Linked DNA regions of Homo sapiens: region 1 is linked to region 2. Evidence: fine-mapped expression QTL. A gene starts in region 2. The other region holds a variant in brackets. All regions are shown on one strand. Distances are between the middles of the regions.

The links. PIP is the estimated chance that this variant, and not a neighbour inherited with it, causes the effect. A credible set is the group of variants that fine-mapping cannot tell apart.
Region 1: its variant is the best candidate, but not a certain one, in a credible set for the expression of CAPN1 in whole blood (INTERVAL, PIP 0.83).

Annotation. Positions count from the first base shown.
Region 1 is chr11:65,103,260-65,107,639 of GRCh38, forward strand. VPS51 (VPS51 subunit of GARP complex) reads left to right here. Exons shown (of 10, transcript NM_013265.4): 3 at 4,322-4,380. Among named protein-coding and RNA genes, the nearest start is that of TM7SF2, 6.4 kb to the right of the region's middle. The variant C/T (reference allele first, on the strand shown) is at 2,647.
Region 2 is chr11:65,179,551-65,183,930 of GRCh38, forward strand. It overlaps CAPN1 (calpain 1), which reads left to right and starts at 2,378. Exons shown (of 22, transcript NM_005186.4): 1 at 2,378-2,463; 2 at 3,151-3,418; 3 at 3,578-3,647; 4 at 3,924-4,042. The coding sequence starts at 3,152. CAPN1-AS1 (CAPN1 antisense RNA 1) reads right to left here and starts at 2,284. Exons shown (of 2, transcript NR_145677.1): 1 at 1,675-2,284; 2 at 321-1,522. RefSeq lists silencers at 1,697-2,146, 2,748-3,042 and enhancers at 2,065-2,854, 2,855-3,643, 3,644-4,380.

The DNA.
Region 1 (4,380 bases), 76 kb before region 2:
AAATAATTATGATTTCCCCAACAAAATGCAGGCAATGGTCCCTATGGTCCCAAAAGTAATATAGATGTTTCACATCATGTGATTTTATTCCTTAGTAACCTTCCTTTCTATGAAATCATCTCTAAGAGGGCTAAATGATCCTTTCTTGTGGACTGTGTTGTTAAAATGAAAAGTCCATTTTGCTGATACGTAATCTACCTTTCCATGTAATTTTTTAAAAAATCCCTTAATAGCTCTACAGATGTGAGCCCTGTAGATTCTTTGTCTCAGACAGTTCTTTCTCTTATATTTTCTCTAATATTTTTTTCCTGCATTTTTTGTTTCTGTTTGTTTCTTGTCAAATTGACATCAATGCTTTTCTCCTTACTCACCCTTCCAGCTGTCTCCCCAAGTGGGGTAGATTCCCAGTGTTGCTTGGAGAACATTCCTACAGTCCCAGAGCCACACACAGACCAGGTGTGGGTGTGTGAAGGCTCACAAGTGATTGCAGTTAGATATTTCCAGATTCTTCTTTGTAAATGCTGATCAGTTTGCATAACCACCAGCAAAGAAGAGAATACCTCTTTCAATCTTTGACAATCTGAGAAGTGAAAAGTGGTATCTCTTATTGTTTATAGTAACGTTTACAGGGTGTTTTTTTTTGTTTTTTTTTTTTAGGGCTTTCTATTTATTCAATTATTATTATTTGAGACAGAGTGTTGCTCTATTACTCAGGTTAGAGTGCAGTGGCACAATCTCAGCTCACTACAACTTGTGCCTCCAGGGTTCAAGCGATTCTCCTGCCTCAGCCTTCCCAGTAGCTAGGATTACAGGCACCTGCCACCACGCCCAACTACTTTTTGTATTTTTACTAGAGACAGGGTTTTACCATGTTGGCCAGGCTGGTCTCAAACTCCTGACGTCAAGTGATCTGCCTGCCTCGGCCTCCCAAAGTGCTGGGATTACAGGCATGAGCTACCGTGGCTGGCCTATTTATTTGATTATATCATCTGCAAATAGTGATACTTCTCCCTCCTTTCCAATTTGTGTATCTCCATAATACATCTCGTGACTCTAGCTGAGTTGGCTAATGCCCCAGAACAATGTAGATAACATTGGCAATCAAGGTTGTCCTTGCCATGTTTTGACTTTAATTGGAGTGCTTCTAGCACTGCCTCGGTAAACATGATACTGAGTTTTGGAGGTCAGGGAAATATTTAGCTGCTCATATGTTATTGAGAGTTTTTTAAAAATCAAGAATAGATGTTGAAATATCTATTAACATGGCAAATTATTATGAGATCCTCTAATTTTGAGTCATCCTGGCATTCATGAAACAAAAACCCTTTTGTGTTTATCAATTATTATTTTAATATGCTGCTGGATTTTGTTTGCTTATTTGTGCATCTCCATTTGTTTATTTAATTCATCCTTGCATCTCCATTCATAAGAGATATGAATGTGTATATGTGAGGTATTTCTGTTATGTTTTCATAACAGTGTTATGTTTGTTCCATCAAGTTTGTGTGAGAGCTGTTCTCGTTTCTCTGCTGGGGCAGTGTTTACACAGAGAATTGGAAGGCGCTGTCCTTCAAGCCGCCGCAACACCCCTGGACATCTGGGCCAGATGCCTTTGTGTGGAGGGGAAAGGGGAGTAGGACCTTTCTTTCACAACATTCTCTAGTTTTTCTGTTTCTGTTTTCTTGTTTTTTGCAATCCATTTTGGTAAATCCTATTTTTGTAGCAAATTATCCATTTCATCCATAGAATTCACCAAGCCCTTACCAATTTAGTGTTTTCTTGGTATTTTACCCATGCTGCAATTTCAGTTTTGATTTCCTTTTCTGACCTCATAATTGGTTAACAATGAGGTTTTTTCGACTGGGCACGGTGGCTCCCGCCTGTAATCCCAGCACTTTGGGAGGCCGAGGCGGGTGGATCACTTGAGGTCAGAGACCAGTCTGGCCAACATGGTGAAACCCTCTCTACTAAAAGTACAAAAATTAGCCAGGCATGGTGGCACGTGCCTGTAATCCCAGCTACTCGGGGCTGAGGCAGGAGAATCGCTTGAACCCAGGAGGTGGAGGTTGCAGTGAGCTGAGATCGCGCCACTGCACTGCAGCCTGGGCGACGGAGGGAGACCCTGTCTCAAAAAAAAAAAAAGAATGAGGTTTTTTTCTTTGTGATCTACCATATGGAAAGGTTTGTATATATTTTATGGCATTGTTTGGGAAAAATGCAAACTGTGTGCTTCCTATGCTCTCACATCACCACAATCATGACCACAGAAGAGTTCTGTGACCAAATGTGTTGGGTTTCTTCCCCACACACCAAGCAGCAGACACCCGCTGGGTGTCCTCTGATTTAATTCCAACACTATTTACCCAGAGATAGCATCAGATTCCATGAGTTGAGGGCTGAGTCCCCAAGCCTGCCTCCCTTCAGGCACTAGTTCAGTCCCAAATCTGCCTCCCCACTTTCAGGCACTAGCTGCAGGTCAGGGCCTCAGGCCTCCAGAATTTCTGACCAACTGGCTCCAGGTAGGGGTTTCCATAACTCCCTCTTTGGGCTCAGTTTGCTGGAGTGGCTCACAGAGCTCAGGATAACACATTTACCAGTTTATTACAAAGGATGTTACAAAGGGTACAGATGAGCAGGTGCATAGGG[C/T]GAGGTGTAGGAGAAGGAGCATGGAGTTTCCATGCCCTCCCCGGGCGTGCCACCCTCCAGGAGCCTCCAGAGCTGAGATCGCGCCACTGCACTCCAGCCTGGGTGACAGAGTGAGACTCTTTCTCAAACAAAACAAAACCAAAATATCTCCTGTTACAGATACACATTTCTGTCTTATCCTCTTCGCCTTTCTTTATGAACATTGTTGGTATGTTCAATGGAATTAGGGAAATTAGTTGGGAAATGTTGGCAGTTGTTGGACAAGAGATGATAGTGGCTTACAAAGAAAATGTTGCAGGTAGACCTTCCATGACTTGGTAATGGATTGATTACTAGGTATATTAATCCAGGTTCATACTGCTGTAAAGAACTGCCCGAGACTAGGTAACTTATAAAGGAAAGAGGTTTAATTGACTCACAGTTCACAGCATGGCTGGGGAGGCCTCAGGAAACTTACAATCATGGCAGAAGGTGAAAGAGAAGCAAGGCATCTTCTTCACAAGGCAGCAGGAAGGAGAAGTGTTAAGCGAAGCAGGGAGAGCCCCTTATAAAACCATCAGACCTCGTCGGGTGCGGTGGCTCATGCCTGTAATCCCAGCACTTTGGGAGGCCAAGGTGGGCGGATCATGAGGTCAGGAGATCAAGACCATCCTGGCTAACATGGTGAAACTCCATCTCTACTAAAAATACAAAAAATTAGCTGGGTGTGGTGGCAGGCACCTGTAGTCCCAGCTACTTGGGAGGCTGAGGCAGGAGAATGGTGTGAACCTGGGAATTGGAGTTTGCAGTGAGCAGAGGTCGTGCCACTGCACTCCAGTCTGGGCGACAGAGCGAGACTCAGTCTCAAAAAAAAAAAAAAAGAATAGGTGGAATTGAATTGAGGCCGTCAGTGAACAGTCAGGAACATTGGAAGGCTCATCCATGTGGATGTGCACAAGGAGGTGACAGGAGGAGGAGAAGAGGCAGTGATGGGGAACTGAGAGGAGTGTCAGAGGACAGTAGAGACAGCAAAGAGGAGGGTTGTGGCTTGATGGCATGGTCTTCCTAGAAGCCGGGGTTTTGAAGAGAGGAGATCTAGGCATGATTTAGAAGCATGAAGGGACCAGGCTCCCAGGCACCTGGTGTGTGAAAGGAAAAACAGCCTCCCTAGGCAGGATTCTATCAGGACCAAAGGGAAAGGGCCCTTCAGAGAAGACAGCCCATGTTCCGGAAAGCATGTGAAAGGCTTTGGGAGGTCTGGAAAGGAGATGAGGGTCAACAAGAATGTATTGCCTCATCCAGGCAGTGCGCTGGACACGCAGATGCGCTTGGGAGCCAGCGGTCCCTGCCTTGGCTGCTTGTGGTCTGATGGAGCAGTTGAGGCACAGTGGTGGCAGCTGGCTAAGCACCTGCGGCCTGCTTCGGATCTGGACTAATTCTGAGGGCCGGCTCTCCTGGGCACCAGGGTTAGGGGGTTACGGGGAGTATGTGAGTAACGCCTGCTTTGGGAACATAAACCCCCTCCCCCGCCCCCATGTGCGCTGTGACCCACGCCCTCGCAGTCCTTTCTCTGGAATCATCCATGCGCCCCTGGAGCAAGCTGGGGCGTCTGTGAAGGGGTGGGTGAGAAGGAGCTGAGGTTGCGCCCGCCCTGCAGTCACCTGCTCTCCCCTTTTCCCCGCCCCTGCCCTCCTAGACACCATCCGGAAGATGAAGAACGATTTCCGGAAGATGGAGGATGAGATGGACCGGCTG
Region 2 (4,380 bases):
ATTTTTTGACAGGCGCGGTGGCTCACCCTGTAATCCCAGCACCTTGGGAGGCAGAGGCGTGCAGATCACTTGAGGTCAGGAGTTTGAGACCAGCTTGGCTAACATGGTGAAACCCTGTCTCTACTAAAAATACAAAAATTAGCCTGGTGTGGTGGCGGGCGCCTGTAATCCCAGCTACTGGGGAGGCTGAGGCAGGAGAATTGCTTGAACCCAGGAGGTGGAGGTTGCAGTGAGCCAGGATCGCGCCACTGCATTCCAACCTGGGTGATGGAGCGGGACTCCATCTCAAAAACAAAAACAAACACCAGAAAACAAACAAATGTTTTGTCCATTTTTATTGGATTTTTATTCAATTGTAAAAGTTCTTTATACAAGTCCTACATCAGATAGAATTTTTACAAATATTCGTCCTAGTCTATGGCTTATCTTTTCATTTTTAATAGTTTCGTGCATTTTGAGAAACAAAAGCGTTTTATTTTGATGAAGTTCAATTTATTGATTTCTTCTATCATTTACACTTTTTGTGTCATATTTAAGAAATCTGGCCAGGTGCCAAAGCTCACACCTGTAATCCCAGCACTTTGGGAGGCTCAGGCAGGAGGACTGCTTGAGCCCAGGAGTTCATGACCAGCCTGAGTAACACAGCAGGACCCCATTTCTACAAAAAATTTAAAAATTAGCTGTGTGTCGTGGCACGTGCCTGTAGTCTCAGCTACTCAGGAGGCTGAGGTGAGAGGATCTCTTGAGCCCAGGAGTTTAAAGTTACAGTGAGCTGTGATCAGGGCACTGCACTCCTGCCTGGTCAATGAAAGCAAGACCCTGCCTTTAGAAAAGAAAAAAGAAATCTTTTCAAACCCAATATTGTTAAGATTGTCTCCATTTTTAAAAAAAAAAGTTTTATGGTTTGGCCATTTATATTTAGGTGTGTAATCCAGTTTGAGTTAAATTTTGATGGTGTATCCTAAATAGTTATCAAATCCATCTACTTCTGCCTGCCACCTCTCTAGTTTAAACCACCCTTCTCTGTCCCTGGACACCTGCGCAGAAAGCCTAGGAGCTGGTTCCACCCATCACTCACCAGGTTAGGTATTTCAGGCAAGTCACACCCTCTCAGGCCTCAGTTTTCCTCTTTTGTTAACTGAGGGTGAAAGTGGGGTTAGATTAGATCAGCGGCTCTTAACTTTTGAGGGGTCGTGGGCCCTAGAGTCCTGGGAACGCTATGCAGTTTCCTCAGCAAAATGCTTGCATCCACAACATGCAAGACTGCAGCAGCTGCTGGGCTGGGGCTGCGAGACCAGCGAAAAGCCCTGACTTGGGGGGGTCTCGGGAGTCTCTGCAGTCTCCCCACCCACACCCCCGGCCTCCGCGCCGAATCCTGGCCCCCCAACTTCTTGCAGCCCGTGAAGCAGGATCTCAGGGTCCTGGGGGTGGGGAGAGGGGGCTGCCGTCCTGCTCGCAGCCTCTGCCGCCCTCTCCTGGGTAAGGTGACACATGGGCGCTTCCAGGTGGGTGGGCTGAGAGCCTGGGGGAGAGAACAGGGATGTCCACCTCTCTAAGTTTCCAGGTTCAAGAAACCCCAGAACGTTAGAGAAAGATGGGCTCCCACAATTGCCCAACCCCATCCCATAGGATGCACGCATGCGGAAAGTCGGGCCGAACGGGGCAGGGACTTACCCAAGGTCACGCAGCGAGCCCGGTCCCCCTGCGTTCCCCGGGGAGCGCTGAGCCGGGACGCGGCGGTGGGGTGGGGAAGGGGAGTGGCGCGGCCCTGCGGGGTGAGGCTGCCGTTTGCTGAGTGTCCGGCAGGGGTCTGCTCGCTGCCAGCCCGGCCCCTCCTCAGAGCAGCTGCCGCAGCCCGAGGTAATCTCGGCCCCGCGCCGGGGCTGGCTGGGAACGGCGGGAGCAGCTGCGGTCGCGCGGAGCGAGGGGAGCTGGGGACCGGGCGGGCCCGGGGCTGCGGGAGGCGGCGCCGCCGCACAATCGCCCCGGAATGCCCGCCAGGGCGCGCGTGGGGTGCGGCCGTCCGGCCCTGCAACTCGAGCTGCTGCCCCTGGTTAAAAATACCCCCTGCCCGGCCCTCCCCCTCCGTTCCCCGCGGTGCCCTTCCGCCGCGCCCCAGCCCCCCCATCCCCCCCCGCGCTGGCCCCTCCCCGGGGACTGCTCTGCCTTTTACTAATTTGTCCTCTCGCGGAATTGGCCCCCGGCCTGCGGAGGGAGGGGCGGGGAGACACCGTGAGTAAGAGATAGTCAGAGACCGTGCCGGAGAGATAAGGGAGAGCCGAGAGGAAGCGGGGTAGGAGCCCCAGGAGGAGGAGGAGGAGAAGGAGAGAGGGAGGGCGGAGGGCGGAGGGGCGGCGGGAGGAGGGCGGGGAGGAGCGCTCTTCCTGGTTGGGCCCTGCCCTGAGCTGCCACCGGGAAGCCAGCCTCAGGGACTGCAGCGACCCCCAAACACCCCTCCCCCAGGTAAGAAGCTGGGTAGCCGAGCCGGGATTCCTTGACCCTGGCCACTGCTCCTGGGCTGAGGGGCTGCCCCAGCACGGTCCCTTCTCGGGGGCCTCTGCGTTCCTGGAGCAGGGGTGGGGGCTGGCGGAGCGGCACAGCCCAGGCGCCTGTCCCAGCCTGGCTCACCGCTGTCCCCAGGGGCTGGGCTAGGGCCCACCAGCTCTGATATCGAGCCTGCTGCGGGGGCCTGAGGAGGGGGACCCCGACCGTCTGGGGTTTTCAGCCCACGGCAAGGGGCCGGTGCACCAGGAGCTTGGTTAGTTTGGGGAGGGGGTTGCAGGCCTGTGAACAGGATCAAAGAGGCCTTCCCTGCTGTGTCCCACCTGCCCAGTTCCTTGTGCTGTCTGGAGGCTCCGCCCTGCCCCACCTGACCTGCTGGCTCACTACAGAGCTGCAAGCCCCTGACAATGGGATCCGGGAAAGGAGAGGTGGCCGGCACGCCTGGGAACTGGGAAATCCCTTTCCTGGATTCACTGGGAGCACCGGGAGGTGGCTGAGAACCCTACTTCTGTGAGGGGAGCAGTGAGGCAGGGAAACCCTAGGTTTGGGGATGGATAAGCAGGGGCAGGAGAGCAGAGCTTGCAGGCAGGAGCCCAGGTTCTAGTCTTGGGAAGGCCTGGGTTCTGAGCAGGCCCATCTGTCCGGCAGGATGTCGGAGGAGATCATCACGCCGGTGTACTGCACTGGGGTGTCAGCCCAAGTGCAGAAGCAGCGGGCCAGGGAGCTGGGCCTGGGCCGCCATGAGAATGCCATCAAGTACCTGGGCCAGGATTATGAGCAGCTGCGGGTGCGATGCCTGCAGAGTGGGACCCTCTTCCGTGATGAGGCCTTCCCCCCGGTACCCCAGAGCCTGGGTTACAAGGACCTGGGTCCCAATTCCTCCAAGACCTATGGCATCAAGTGGAAGCGTCCCACGGTGAGAGGGGCCATCCTGGGTGGGACTCGGCTAAGCCAGATCCTGGATGAGGAGTAGGGATGGGACTCCATGTCCCTGGTGGGGAATGGGGTCTGGGGTGGCCTGGTGCCAATTTCTGGGAGGGGCTGGCCGAGGAACAGGACTCTGGGTCTCTCGTAGGAACTGCTGTCAAACCCCCAGTTCATTGTGGATGGAGCTACCCGCACAGACATCTGCCAGGGAGCACTGGGTAGGCCCCCAGGGCGTCGGGTCCCGGGTATTTTTTCCACAGTAGTTCCCCATTCCCGCTCCTTCAGGCTCTGCCCCAACCCCTCCCTCTTGCAAGCCCAGGCAGGATCTGGCTATCAGCGCTGGGGCTGGTTTGCCCAGATTCCTGGGTCTTTTCTGCAAGCTGAGGGGAGTTAAGTGGCACCCTGGCCAAGGAACCCCAGATTCTCCCTAGCACCCGCTTCCCCCCCCGGGGCAGGTTGGTAGAGCAGGCTAATGTGCATCCCTCCTGCCCCAGGGGACTGCTGGCTCTTGGCGGCCATCGCCTCCCTCACTCTCAACGACACCCTCCTGCACCGAGTGGTTCCGCACGGCCAGAGCTTCCAGAATGGCTATGCCGGCATCTTCCATTTCCAGGTGAGGGCTCCCCTGGGGAGGAGGGGCAGCAGGCACTGGGGGAGATGCGGAAGGATGACCCACAATACCTGCAGTTAGGGCCACACCCTGTGGGGCCAGCCCTCCCTCTAGCAGGTATTTGACCTCTCAGTGCCATCTCGGGTCTGTCATGTGTGAAGTGACTGGGCTGGGCAGGTATTTCGGCTGGCAGTTTTCCTAGGTGGTTGTATGTATCAGGTGGAAAGTGCTTGAAAGAACAGAAAGACTTTTGTGTTATATCCTGTGGGACAAATTCCACTCCTCCCGGAGGTCGGTCTCAGTTGCCCCATCTGAGAAAGGAGTGTTCGCTGGGGAAAACA